2 linked regions of the Homo sapiens genome follow. The protein of the gene in region 2 interacts with the protein of the main gene of each other region in a biochemical or structural test. Each region holds a gene or a part of one and is shown on either strand. Other genes may lie near its edges.

The links.
Region 1: of the proteins of HAT1 (region 2) and RSAD2, one has a biochemical effect on the other in vitro, tested with the Homo sapiens proteins (one study listed by BioGRID).

Annotation. Positions count from the first base shown.
Region 1 is NC_000002.12:6,873,572-6,880,813, forward strand, and holds the start of RSAD2 (S-adenosylmethionine-dependent nucleotide dehydratase RSAD2), read left to right. Parts: upstream 1-4,205; 5' UTR 4,206-4,229; coding exon 4,230-4,575; intron 4,576-7,242.
Region 2 is NC_000002.12:171,918,054-171,925,498, reverse strand, and holds the start of HAT1 (histone acetyltransferase type B catalytic subunit), read right to left. Parts: upstream 3,039-7,445; 5' UTR 2,999-3,038; coding exon 2,992-2,998; intron 2,578-2,991; exon of another isoform or gene 2,382-2,577; intron 1-2,381. UniProt on the Homo sapiens protein: Histone acetyltransferase that plays a role in different biological processes including cell cycle progression, glucose metabolism, histone production or DNA damage repair. Coordinates histone production and acetylation via H4 promoter binding.

The DNA.
Region 1 (7,242 bases), about 170 Mb from region 2:
ATTACTTGGGGAAACTGAACTTTAAAAAGTTCAGGGTTTTCACATCCATGTAAATCTGTATTCTTTTCGAAGTCTTCTGATTATCACTTTGCTTATTTAGGAGTGACATATGATTCTGCTTAATCAAGTATTTTGAACCTTTTGACATCTTTGGCAGGTTTCCTCAATATCAAAACCCTAAATTAAGCCTTTTTGATCTTGAAGAGATACTAAATGATTAGGCTTATTTGGCAAATCATATGGGAAGCATATCAAATAAGAAATGATGCTTAACTCCCTTTAAGTTATATTTATATAAATATGTTACTAATATGTGTTCCAAATTGCATGAGATCTTAAAATTCCAAGATGTTATATGATATGGTTTAGATTTGTGTCCCCAACCAAATCTCATGTTGAAATTGTAAACCTCAATGTTGGAGGTGCAACCTGGTGGGAAGTGATTGGATCACGGGAGCAGGTCCTCATGAATGGCTTAGTACTGTCAACTTGGTACTGTCCCCAGGATAGTGAGTTCTTGTGAGATCTGATCGTTTAAAAGTGTGTAGCGCCTCCTCCTGCCCCAGCATCTTTCTCTCTTGCTCCTGCTCTGGACATGCGAGACATCTTCTCCCCCTTTTCCTTCTGTCATGATTTTAAGTTTCCTGAGGCCTCCCCAGAAGCCAAGCAGATGCCAGCATGATGCTTCCTGTACAGCCTGCATAAGAATGAGCCAATTCAACCTATTTTCCTTATAAATGACCCAATCTTGGGTATTTCTTTACAGCAATGCAAGAATTGACTAATATATCATAATATGTGTTATCAGTCTTGAGTATGATTATTTAGTTTAATGATTGTATGCCACAAAAATACCTAAATTTTCTTTTAAATTTTCTTGCAATTATTTCTACATTATTTCTTACAATTTCCTTGTAAACTCTCATCAGAGTTTTGATCATAGCTGTTCTGGATTTTTCTCATCCACGATTATTGTTTTAAATTCTTCTCTAGAAGCATTTGCAATCAGCTATAGCCCAAAATTACTAATTAAGGAAAGCAAAATTAATTAACCGAAAGTAAGTAGTTGATAAGGATAACTTTATGACTTTTATTTAAAATGTTGGTTCTACACTTAAATTTTTTTTCAGATTCAAGGAATTTTTCTTTCATTAGTTATAGTTTGCAATAATTTGGGGAAGTATACTTTTATGAACAAAAGTGGAAGCATTTGCCTTTCTCCCTACTTGAGTCCTCCAAAATTCAGACACTATTTGTGAGCATTCTTATTTTATTTCTGTAAGTTCAGTAAAAATCTGCTCTCCCTTTGTAAGCAGGATACTATTGGAAATACTGATTATATTACTAGGCTTTGATTGAAAAGTCATATTTAAGAAGGGTCATCACATGCCTGGCTTCAAGAGTTCCCAGCCTTACAGTGAATACATAAAACTTGTCACTTCCTGGTAGGCCCAAGAACCTTAAGACCCTAAGTAAAATCTAAAGCCTGCCTTGATTTGGCTTCCTAGCCTCTAGAGGTTCTAAAACCTGAAAGTTCCTGTATGATTAATGTGGAGAGAAAAAGTCATGTTCTTAAGAAAAACTAACGTGCACCTACTTTAGGTTAAAGCCCTATGCACTGTTTTCAAGTTCTGGTTTTCTACCTGTAGACTGGACTGGATCCTGAGTTCTCCTAATTTCCTACAATATCTGGATACAGTTAAATCCTGATAAAGTTTACCAGCCCTCTTCCCTCAAGCAAAACTATAGAGCCTCTTGGGACATTTCCCCTACTCGAATTATTCAACTAGGGGAATTAGGTATTAAGATTGGAGAAAACTCATCAGAGCTCTGGTCAACACTGGGGCTACTCTGTCCATCCTTAACCCCAGCATGCTTTCCATGGACCCTCCCTGGAGTTCTGAATTCATCCAGATGGTTGGGGTAGCCAACCAACCTATGATGGTTCCTAATCTTCACCTATTCTTTTCCAACTAGTACCCCTCACGGGCAGTTGTTTTTCCTTTGGGCTTCCATACACTTCCTAGGCAGGGACTTCTTAGAAACATTCCAGGCCCATATTTTATTCTCCCAGAAAGGAGAAATAATGCTTGAGTTATCCTCACCAGGAGATTTGGCCATGGAAATACCTTTTACCCAAATTCCCATCTATTCAGTTATCCCCAACACTACCTGCCCTGTTCTCTAACAGCTATAATCCAACACTCATGATAATCCCTCAGATTATGAAGATAATAGTTGTGGATACTCTCAAGGATATAATTCATCTAGAAGGGTTAACCCTAGAAGGAGCTAGATTAGGAAGGTTTTTCCGGTCCCAATTTAAACTAGATTCTGCTTGGAATTCATAAATGATCAGAAACCCTTCCTGAACTGTTCGCAGGATTGCCTGCTCTACCACCCAGGCCATCAGGGTGCAACAGAGGTCCATAGACTCCCTTGCTCGTGTGGTCCTAGACAAACACATTGCTTTAGACTATCTCCTCCCTGCACAGAGTGATGTTTGTGCTGTTGCTGCCACTTTCCACAGGGTAAATACTTCCAGGCAGGTTGAATTTGAAACATCTAAGATCTTAAGGCTAGCCAAATCTCTGAAAAACAGCTTCAAAAAGCCTCCTGGCTGGACCTTCTAGGTTAAGTTTCTGATCTCCAGATATTTCCAGCCGGCTTCCCCTGCAGTAGGGTTCCTTCTGCATGCCACCCTACAAGTCTTGATCCTCCTTATGTTTGGGCTAAGCATTTGGAGCCTCTTTAAGATTTTCCTAGCCTATTTTAACAGATGCCTGCAAGAGACCCCCACTAGGATCGTGCTGACCTAACCTTTGAGACTTCAAAGGTTGCTCCAGCCAGAAAGGGGAACCAAGTTAACCCAAAAGAATTTGATTCAAATTTAACAGGTGCCTGTATGCCTCTCATGATCACATGTTTATGAAGAAGTGAGATCTATCCAAAAGTGGTTTTCAATTGTGCAAGACCATGGCATGAGAGTTTAAGAAACTTTGGGCTGAGATTTCAAGGACCTGAGACATATCTACTGTTGAATATTTGGTAATCATTAAGCATACAATTTTGCAGATGTTAAATGTTAAGTTAAACATGTTTAATTTTTTTTAAGTAAAATAAATCATTTCTGTTTCTATTCAGAATATGACAGTATCAGAATAACAGGAGCTAACCCTAACTGAACACTTAAAGTTTGCCAGGCACTATTCTGAATTCTTCACAAAAATTAGCAGTTTTACTCTGCACAAAAATCGCCTGAGATACGTTGCTTTGCTGATGAAGAAATGGAAATCCAGAGAAATAAAGTCGCTTACTCAGTCACCCAGCTACATGATTTGTGGCTCTGGAAGTTCAGCTACTAGGACTCTTCCAACTTCCTACAGGTGTCACGAAAGCACAAGACCACACACTTACACACAGTTCTGATGAAAGAGGGCTAAAAGGAAGATTTCAGTAAAAAGGTCAACAAGGCTTTCTAAAAAAACTGTAAAGGTAAATAAATGATGTGTCGCAGTAATTCTCACCAATTAGGAAGCATCTTAGAAAAGCATTGGATTTCCTCTAGTTAAAAACATCTATAAAAAGTGATATCAAAATATAGGAAGATGTAAATATCTAAATTTTAACACTGTCACCTTGCATAAATTAGGCTGAATAGCTGATGGAATAAGACCTAAATTCAATTTTGTTCCATGCCTTTTTACTGTGATCTGAAAGGGGTCTTGAGGTGAATGATCCTGTACTCATCCTCCACCAGCCAATCAGTCTGTTTATTATTTGGCTTTAAAAAGAAACCCCTTCACCATGATGGAGCAAAAACTGTTACTTGGCTATGTCAAGAGAAAGCAATGCAACAAGTACAAAGCGTGCTGATTAATGCACCTTGTCTATCTCTATCAGACAGAGAGCTAGATATTGATAGAGACTGCTATCCTCATGTGTAACTACATCAAGCTAGAGAGACTGTTATAATACAAGTGGACTGAGGCAGCCGTGAGCAGAGAAACCAGGAATGCTCGCCCCGATCTCTAGTCTTCAGTCTTGGCCCTGTTTCAACTTTCAGTTTCACATGTGGAAAAATCGAAACTCTAACTCAGCTGAGTGTTAGTCAAAGAAGGTGTGTCCTGCTCCCCAATGACAGGTTGCTCAGAGACTGCTGATTTCCATCCCTATATAAAGAGAGTCCCTGGCATACAGAGACTGCTCTGCTCCAGGCATCTGCCACAATGTGGGTGCTTACACCTGCTGCTTTTGCTGGGAAGCTCTTGAGTGTGTTCAGGCAACCTCTGAGCTCTCTGTGGAGGAGCCTGGTCCCGCTGTTCTGCTGGCTGAGGGCAACCTTCTGGCTGCTAGCTACCAAGAGGAGAAAGCAGCAGCTGGTCCTGAGAGGGCCAGATGAGACCAAAGAGGAGGAAGAGGACCCTCCTCTGCCCACCACCCCAACCAGCGTCAACTATCACTTCACTCGCCAGTGCAACTACAAATGCGGCTTCTGTTTCCACACAGCCAAAACATCCTTTGTGCTGCCCCTTGAGGAAGCAAAGAGAGGATTGCTTTTGCTTAAGGAAGCTGGTGAGTACATGGTCCTAGACAGAAATCAGGATTCTCAACCACTGGGCAGTGGGGTAAGGCGAGAAGGGGCTGGGGGTATGCACAAGCTGGAGAGCTTCTCCAAAGCTTGAGGTCACCATTTACCCTTGCATGGTGAGCATGTTGTCCTATGAGAAAATAATTCAGTGAATTTTGGAGTGGGCACCTAGTCCTTCCTAAATCACAGAATTGGGCTGGAACAGGGGATTTGTGGAGCAAACCTGTCCCTCCTGCCATTTGGAAGCAAGAAGGGGTCTATGCAAAGGGCAGGTCCCTATTACACTTGGTGTTTGGAAAGAGGCGGTTTGGGAAGTTTGTACTACTTTCTGAGTTTGCCCACAACACTAACGAATTTGGGTTTTCCAGAAACAGTTATTAATAATTAGAAAAGTTGGAAACAAAAACAAAAACTTTGACATAAAAATAGCAGTAGTTGAATCTTATATTTGAGTTTGTGTATATTCTTTTAATAGGAAACCTTAAAATTTTTTTAACAAATATGTCAAGGACTTAGCCTTCAAGAATGCTTACTGAGCATCACCACATTAGTAACTGGCAGCGTCTTGGAGAGAACTCAGCACGTGACCTTCGAATGCAATATCTTCCACTCCAGATCTGTTCTGCCTTCCGTCCTTGTCTTCCTGTCTTTCCTAGAGTACCTTCTCAACTAGTAACTTCAGCAACATCTCTAGCTTCTTTCCCTCCTTGTTTAACTTTTTAACAAAAGCATAGCATACATGCACCAGATTACACATATTCTGGATGTGCACCCTGATGAATTTCACAAAGCAATCACAGCCAGGTAAATAGCCTGCAGATTCAGAGAGAAAGCATCACCAGCGCCAGAAGTGCATGCTGCACTCCAGCCACTACCCTGGTAAGCACTTGCTGGACTTCTAACACACAGATTCATTTTGCCTGATCCTGTACTTTATATAAATGAAATCATACAGTGGGTCCTATATTGGATCTGACTTCTTTGCTCCACGTTACATTGGCTTAGTTACCCAAAGCTGATTGCTCAAATGAGAACCTGACTTCCCATTCCCAGTGTGGCTTAACTCAAATTCCTATCATTTCTCACCAGGATTACTGTAATTCAACTCACTGTCTCTGCTTGCCCCATTGAAAACTCCTGATCTTTTTTTAAAATGTACTTTTGGTGATTTAACTCCTAACTCTCCTTCTTATGAGCATCGTTGTCAAGGCCCCTGGCAAGCTCAATGTTGCTCTCAGCCTCTGCTACCCTGATGGCTTGGGTCCCCTCTGCTGTAGACACAGCCTGTCACACTCATTTTCTCCAAACATCAAAATTGTTAAAATGATGGTCATATTGTTGTCTCTTCCTAGAATGTCTGTCCTCAAATCTTGTTGGTGAACTTTCAAAGTTCCTTTGAATTCTCCTTGATCCTCTGCAGCCATAATTATGCCCTTTACTTTTCACTTATGAGCTTATAGCAGTTGGTACAAATATGTCTTGCAGCTTTTTAAAATGTACTATTTTGTTCAGTTTTTTTTTTTAATGTCTGGTTCCTCAAAGAAATTGCATTCCAAGGTTGAATTTTACCCTCCTGTGTGTCTTCATGCCTGACAGGATGTCTAGAAAGTAATAGAGGCTTAAGAAATGTTTTAGATAAATGAATGAATGCATGAGTGAGTGAATAAGGAGATATGTCGAGGGAAATTACGACTTTCATTCAGAAAGCCAGGGTTTGAGTTTCTGCTCTAACATTTACTAGATTTGTCAAGACATTTAGCTTTTCTGAGTATCAGTTCCATGATCTTTAAAATTATCTTTAGATAATAATGATAACTGATAAACCAATCTCAAAAGTTGGTACAAGGCACAAACAAGTGAATGTTCATGTATTTTTGTCATAAAAGATAAATTATTATTAATAGTTATAATTAATACTTTTATATAATAACCTCTCAGTTTAAGTAAGTAAAACAAAAGTTAATTGAAATGCTTACATGATAGTGTAGGTTGTATTTTCCTGTAAGAGAGATTTCTAGATAATGGAGGAAAACTATTTTTTTGGTTGTAAGAATTAAAGAAAGAGGAAAGAAACACAAAAGGTGGCTCCACAGTCAAGGACAGGTTTATTTTAGAGAAAAAAAACCTGAGAGGGGCTTCTGGCTGAGTTAAGTCAGAGCCCACTCTCTTACAGACTAAGAGTTTTAAGGATTTGGCGTGGGAGGGTTTATTAGAGACTTGGACTGCTTCTGTTTCTCTTTGTTGTGCTTATCTGGGAGGGAGAGTTGTGTGTCTGTTCCCGTACATCTTCCTGCAGCTGCAGGCATACCCACCCTGAATCTGCTTTTAGCTTCCCTATCTTAGAACACTAAAGAGAAACTAATGTGCTTATTTAGGCCCACTGTTTTACTGGGACCCATTGTATGACAGTGAAGTTTGGCAGTTACCTAAAAGACTTCCCCTCAACCTCCCTCTGTGCTCAAGCTGTCTTGTCTGTGTTTTACTGTCTGCTCTTTCTGGCTGCTTGTGGTTAGAAGATAAGTGATTTCCTTGAAATGCATGAGGCTAGAAAGGGAGCTGGAACTTAAAGTGGTGGTGTTTGTCTGAGATGATGGTGTTCTTGATCTGTCAGTGGTAATTAAAGGTTTAAATTCACATTGAAATTTAAATTT
Region 2 (7,445 bases):
GACTTAAATTGTCAAACCTGCAATAGGGTTATTATAAGTGGAATAGGGGTATGATTTAAAACATGCTGATAGATCATAAAAGCACAAGTCATTCTCCACATACTCTTAAATAAATGTATTAAGAATGCCAGCTGGGCACGGTGGCTCACGCCTGTAATCCCAGCACTCTGGGAGGCTGAGGTGGGTGGATCACAAGGTCAGGAGTTCGAGGTCAGCCTCGCCAAGATGGTGAAACCCGTCTCTACTAAAAATACAAAAATTAGCCGGGCACGGTGACGGGCGCCTGTAATCCCAGCTACTTGGGAGGCTGAGGCAGGAGAATCTCTTGAACCCAGGAGGCAGAGGGTGCAGTGAGCCGAGATCATGCCACTGCCCTCTAGCCTGGGCGACAGAGCAAGACTCCATCTCAAAAAAAAAAAAAAAAAAAAAGAATGCCTCATTACAAAACAGAAAAAGAAATCACTTTTGAGATACAGGCTTATAAACTAGGAATACTTAATATAAATGAATAAACCTGAAAATTAACATGATAGATTACTAACATTTCTGAACATGTACTAATACAAATTACCTGCTAGGATTTATACCTAAGTCGTCTTTTTCATTATAAGATGTAAAAAGCAAAATGAGAATGTCCTCTGATAATTATGACAGAATTTCATTTTAAGTATTGGAAAAAGTCTACCAGAGTGCTTCAGATAAGGAAATGATAATGCATGGAATGTCTCAAGAAGAATACACAAATATCTGGTAACCATAGTTACCATGGGTAAAGAAAGAAGGAAGAGGAACAGGGGCACAAAGAAAACATCTTTCCACTGTATTAAATATTTAAAAATCATGTATGCCTAAAGTCATAAACTGTGAGCTACTGGCACAATAGTTTTACTACATAGTGGCTACTCAATAATATACATAATAAATAACATTGGAAGATATCACTATCAAGAGAAACTTTCAAGATAACAAATCTCCTGACAAAATGGGCATATGATTAGTAAAAATGGGCTGGGCGCGGTGGCTCACGCCTGTAATTTCAGCACTTTGGGAGGCCGAGGCAGGGGGATCGCGAGGTCGAGACGGATATCATCCTGGCCAACATGGTGAAACCCCATCTCCACTAAAAATACAAAAATTAGCTGGACGTGGTGGCGCGTGACTGTAGTCCTAGCTACTCCGGAGGCTGAGGCAGAATTGCTTGAATCCAGAAGGCAAAGGTTGCCGAGATCGCGCCACTGCACTCCAGCCTGGTGACAGAGCGAGACTCAGTCTCCAAAAAAAAAAAAAATCAGTAAAAATTCAGACAGAAAAAAGCCATAAGCAAAAAATAAAAAGGGGTACAATGATGTGCTATAAACTTCAAAAAGGGGTTAAAACACACACACAGAAAATGGGAAAGACTTGAAGCAGTACAGATTAATAGTCTGGAGTGAGAATTCCTGGATTCTGACTATTTCACACACTTACTGAGCTAGTAAGCTCAGGGAACTAGAGCACATTACTTAACCCCTCTGACCCTAATCTACAGAACCGAGATTACAGAATTTACTTCGAGGAATGTAAGCAACAAAATTTAACCTGTGAAATCATATATTAGCTCAATCTGCACAATTCTATAAGTAGGTATTACATCAACCCCATTTTACATTCAAAAGTTCAGGCTTAGAAAGAGGTTTAGTTGAAGGGCATCCAACTACTAAATGATGGGCCCAAAATTCGAATTTAGATGTAATTCTTAGAGTACGTCCTCCCTCTTCTGTGGTACTTCAAGATCCTACAATCTCCATCTGGTAGAAAAGTCCTTCTTTAAACATCTGTAGAGCTCACACAACAGCTTGTCTATCCCACATATTCATAAAAATGGAATGGTTAATGTAGAGAGACTATGAGGAATGCCCTGTAAAGAGATGATAAAAGCAACAAAGGCCAGCGAAGTGGCTCAATCCTGTCATTCCAACACTTTGGGAAGCTGAGGCGAGAGGATGGCTTGAGGCCAAGAGTTCCAGACCGGCCTGAGGCAATACAGCCAGACTCTGTCTCTAAAAGGTTAAAAAAAATTGTTTTTTTTTAGCCGAATGTTGTGGCGCATGCCTGTAGTCCTAGCTACTCGGGAGGCTGAGGCAAGAGGATCGCTTGAGCCTACGAGGAGTTGGAAGCTGCCCGGAACTATGATCGCTGCACTCCAGCCTGGGCGACAGAGAGACCCTGTCTCAGGAAAAAGAAACTGTCCATAACTTCAAAAGATAAGTAATCGAAAAAAATAATCACACCAAAACAGCCTTAATACACGTACAAAGTAATAGCAATTATACATTATTAAATGTTGTAACTTGAAGGGTCTCTAGAATGTACACAAGAGAATTGTATTATAGTAGTCCAACCCTAAAAGAGAAGGGAGCAGTTCAGGAACAAAGTCTTTCTCAAAGGGCATCTAAATACGATCCTCGGAATACTAAAGTGTGACAGATTAACGAGACGACTACGAAGTCAGTCGAGATCCAAGTGGGAGCGCCAGAGCAGGGCAAGGCAGCAATGCGCTAGCTCAGAAGTTGACTGTAGTGGAAGGTAGACGGAGACCTGGAAGAGGAGGAGGATCTGAGCATTAAAATCAGCTGGCGGGAACAGGACCAGATGTACAAGAGCTGAAGCAAGCAGCAGTGGACAAAAGGAATGGGAAGAGAAACAGGCCCCAAGGCATGTGGCATTTTACGAGCCCAAATCATGACGCTTTTCCCTGGCGTCTTCGGCCCTCGGTAGGGGCCGGATTGCTGGCAGAAGGCGCAGAACCCCAAGCAGTTGGGGGCGGGGGCGCGGACCGCCGCCAACAAGGAGCTGCTGGGCTGAGAGTTCCGCGCTTCCGGTCCCAAGCAGGCCTTCTGGAACCCAGGCTACAGCCCGAAAGTTCTAGGCGGGCATTGTCACCACCGTCTCGGCGTTCTATCCCCGATCTGGCCGCCTCCTCCCCTTGGTAAACTTTTCCCGGTAACTTACCCGCCATTTCCGAGCTACGATCACCCGCGGCTGAGGAAGGACGAATCAACCCGCGCGCTCCCGGGCCGGAAGTGACCGCACAGTCTGACATATTTTCCCCGCCCACTCCCAGCGTGACGTTAGCCAATTAAAGGAGGCGTGTCCAGGAGCCCGGCGGCGGAAGCGCCTCAAGAGGCGGGGCTAACGCCGAGAAGTCTGCGCGGGCCGTTGCCTAGCCACTGCGAATGCCGTCAGCCGCTTTGCAGGCCTGAAGTGGAGAAGGAGGCCGCAAACGGACTTTCGCGGTTGAGATGCTCTCTGGCCCTAGGAAAGTTTCTCTGGGGTTGATTTGATCAATACAGACACTTTACGCCTGTTTTCCATACCCGTCCCTGAGATGTTTTGGAGACTGGCTGAAAATCTTTCCTCTTGGCCTGGACAGTGCATCCAAACACCTGAGCCCTGTGGGCAATTTTACCATTTTACCTAGGTAAAATGTAGAGGTTGAGTTTCAGTTGCGGGAGAAGCTTTCACTTGTTTTCCTCATTTGTTTCTCATTTTGCTGTAAACTTTAACACCTTTTTTCCTTTCTCCCCTGTTTTTAACGTATACAGTATGATATTTAGGTACTCTGCTTTCACTCTGCAGGTTACTAAGAACCGTTTAGCGCGCAAAAATCGTTACCTAGGCCGGGCGCGGTGGCTCACGCCTATAATCCCAGCACTTTGGGAGGCCGAGGCGGGTAGATTGCCTGAGCTCAGGAGTTCGAGACCAGTGTAGCCAACATAGTGAAACCCCGTCTCTACTAAAAATACAAAAATTAGCCAGGCATGGTGGCAGGCGCCTGTAATCCCAGCTACTCGGGAGGCTGAGGCAGGAGAATCGCTTGAACCCTGGAGGCGAAAGTTGCAGTGAGCCGAGATTGCGCCACTACACTCCAGCCTGGGCAACAGAGTGAGACTCCGTCTCAAAAAAAAAAAAAAATTGTTACCTAATAAATACCTCAAGTAGCCTGATGTAGTCTTGCATGCCACATGTCCTAGTGGTTTGAATTACATCACAAGGTGCTACCTGATTTTAGCCATAGGCCTTGTTAGTATTTAGTAGCTGTAGGAACTGCTTTCCCCAGAGGATAAACCACTATTTAGGTATCCACAAATATTCCCACAATGTTGGCTATACACCAGAATTCCTTATCTCAACAAATATTTGTTAACAGGTTTTACAGTGATGCACGCTAAAGCTAAAATGGACCCTTGGGATGATGGTCTAGAACTAACACGCCCTCTCATTTTAGAGATGAGGAAACCAAAGCCCAGAAAAGATAAACTGCCCAAGTTCATTCTCAGTATGCAACCTATGCAGAGTGCAGTTCATCAGATACTCAGCCCAGTATTTATTTGCTCAACTATATAGAGATGGCTTTCCTGAAGATAAAGATCAGAAAAGGTACTGAGAATGCCCAGATCCTTTTTCTTTCTTTTTTTTTTTTTTTTTTTTAGACGGAGTTTCACTCTTGTTGCCCAGGCTGGAGTGCAATGGCACAATCTCAGCTCACCACAGCCTCCGCCTCCCGGGTTCAAGCGATTCTTCTGCCTCAGCCTCCTGAGTCGCTGGGATTACAGGCATGCGCCACCACACCCAGCAATTTTGTATTTTTGTAGAGACGGGGTTTCTCCATGTTGGTTAGGCTGATCTCGAACTCCCAACCTCAGATGATCTGCCCATCTCGGCCTCCAAAAGTGCTGGGATTACAGTCGTGATCCCAAGAAAAGGTTTCAAGATCCTTTTTCTTGAAACCTAATGATACACAAGAAATTACAGTCATAGGCCGGGCGTGGTGGCTCACGCCTGTAATCCCAGCACTTTGTGATGCCGAGGCGGGCGGATCACGAGATCAGGAGATCCAGACCATCCTGACTAACATGGTGAAACCCTGTCTCTACTAAAAATACAAAAAAAGTAGCCGGGCGTGGTAGCGGGTGCCTGCAGTCCCAGCTACTCAGGAGGCTGAGGCAGGAGAATGGCGTGAACCTGGAAGGCGGAGCTTGCAGTGAGCCGAGATCCCGCCACTGCACTCCAGCCTGGGCAAGAGCGAGACCCCGTCTCAAAAAAAAAAAAAGAAATTACAGTCATAATGTTAAGACAGAAAACTGAAATCAATGAGACTAATGACATTATGGATCAAAAAAGGAAAACAATCTTTTTCTTTAATAATCATTTTTGGCTAGGCACGGTGGCTCACACCTGTAATCCCAGCACTTGGGAGGCCAAGGCAGGCAGATCACCTGAGGTCAGGAGTTTGAGACCAGCCTGGCCAACATGGTAAAACCCTGTCTCTACTAAAAAGTACAATAAATTAACCAGGCGTGGTGACATGAGCCTGTAATCTCAACTACTTGGGAGGCTGAGGCAGTAGAATCGCTTGAACCCAGGAGGCGGAGGTTGCAGTGAGCTGAGATAGTGCCACTGCACTCCAGCCTGCTCAAGAGAGCGAGACTCCATCTCAAAAAAAAAAAAAAACTTTTCTTTTCAAAATGGCAAGACTTATCATTTCTTTCCAAAATCACCTTATCTATGGATCAATTGCTGACCAGCAATTATGATCTTTATAAGTAAGAAATCAAGAAGAATTACGTTTTAACTGTGGTATATCACAGATTATTAGTCCTGTGATATTATGGTTAGTTGTAGGAAAAAAATATGATGAAACTTACTGATATATTGTATGACTAGCATTTAATGTGATTTGCTTGCAGAATTGAGGTTTTATATTGTCCTCGTCTTAGATGTTCACTTTTTTTTTTTTTTTTTTTTTTGAGACAGGGTCTCACTCTCACCCAGGCTGGATTGCAATGATGCAATCATAGCTCACTACAGCCTCCAGCCTCCAACTGCTGGGCTCAAAAGATCCTCCTGCCTCTCAGCCTCCCAAATAGCCAGGACTACAAATGTGTGCCATTGTGCACAGCTAATTTTTTTGTTTTTTGTAGAAATGGAGTCTCAGTATGTTGCCCAGGCTGGTCCCAAACTCCTGGCCTCAAGCAATCCTCTCAGCTTGGCCTCCCGGAATGCTAGGATAATAGGTGTGAGCCACCATGTCCATCCTCACATTTTTTTTTTTTAATGTTACAGAATAGATGTTTTGGTACAGTTTACCTAAAAGATAAAAGAATGACTTATTTTGGAAAGGTAATGTGAAAATTACCCAAAAGGAAAAAAATTCTCTTTTTTTTTGTAGGGATTTCTTTCCTTTTTTAACTTATATTTTACTTTGTTCTAAAGAGAATTTAAGAAAGCAACTATTACAATCATGGAATAAAATTTCTATGAAAGGAATATGCTATCCTCATATATATATGGAAGAGACAACATATCTTGTGGGAAGTTTACTGCCCTACTAGTCCCAGTTCTACTACTTCATGCTTGTTCAACCTTGTTGCATCTATTAAGTGGAGATAATAGTACTGCCCAGTCACCACACTGGGTTGCTGTAAAAACTAAACGGAATAATATTTGTGAACGACCTTTGTAAACTCTAAAACTCTATGCAGGTATGAAGTGGTATTACTATGATAACATTTATTCTAGTAAGGGAGATTTGGAAAAGGCATTTTCTTCAGAGAAAAGGGCCATATTACACTATTAGGTATGAACTGGCAACCATGTGTTGGTACAGGCTCAAGTTCATATGGACTGATAAACTTCACTATCTTGCTTTGAAACCTCCAGAATGGATTAAAATTTGGCACAAAAAAATATGGTCATCGGGCCGGGCGCAGTGGCTCATGCCTGTAATCCCAGCACTTTGGGAGGCCGAGGCAGGCAGATCACGAGGTTAGGAGATCGACAGCATCCTGGCTAACACGGTGAAACCCCGTCTCTACTAAAAACACAAAAAATTAGCCAGGCGTGGTGGCGGGCGCCTGTAGTCCCAGCTACTTGGGAGGCTGAGGCAGGAGAATGGCATGCACCCAGGAGGCGGAGCTTGCAGTGAGCCGAGATCATGCCACTGTACTCCAGCCTGGGAGACAGACTCCGTCTCAAAATATATATATATATATATGGTCATCAGAAAATTGATGCAGGAAATCAATTTTAAGAAAAATGCATGTATGTAATGTGTCTTCATTTCAAAATGCATACCTTTACACAGACAAATAACAGTAGTTAGTTAGCTCATTTTTTTAGCTCGTAGTGCTAATGAGCATAAAGTTATGAGTCTCAGTTCCCAGAGCAATTATCCAGAAACCATTATCCAGCTAGATGACTTCCAAATGGGATACAAGAAAGAAAATAGGCTGGGCGCGGTGGCTCACGTCTGTGATCCCAGCACTTTGGGAGGCCGAGGCAGGCAAATCACATGAAGTCAGGAGTTCGAGACCAGCCTGGCCAACATGGTGAAACTCCATCTCTACTGAAAATACAAAAATTAACCGGGTGTGGTGGCATACACCCGTAATTCCAGCTACTCA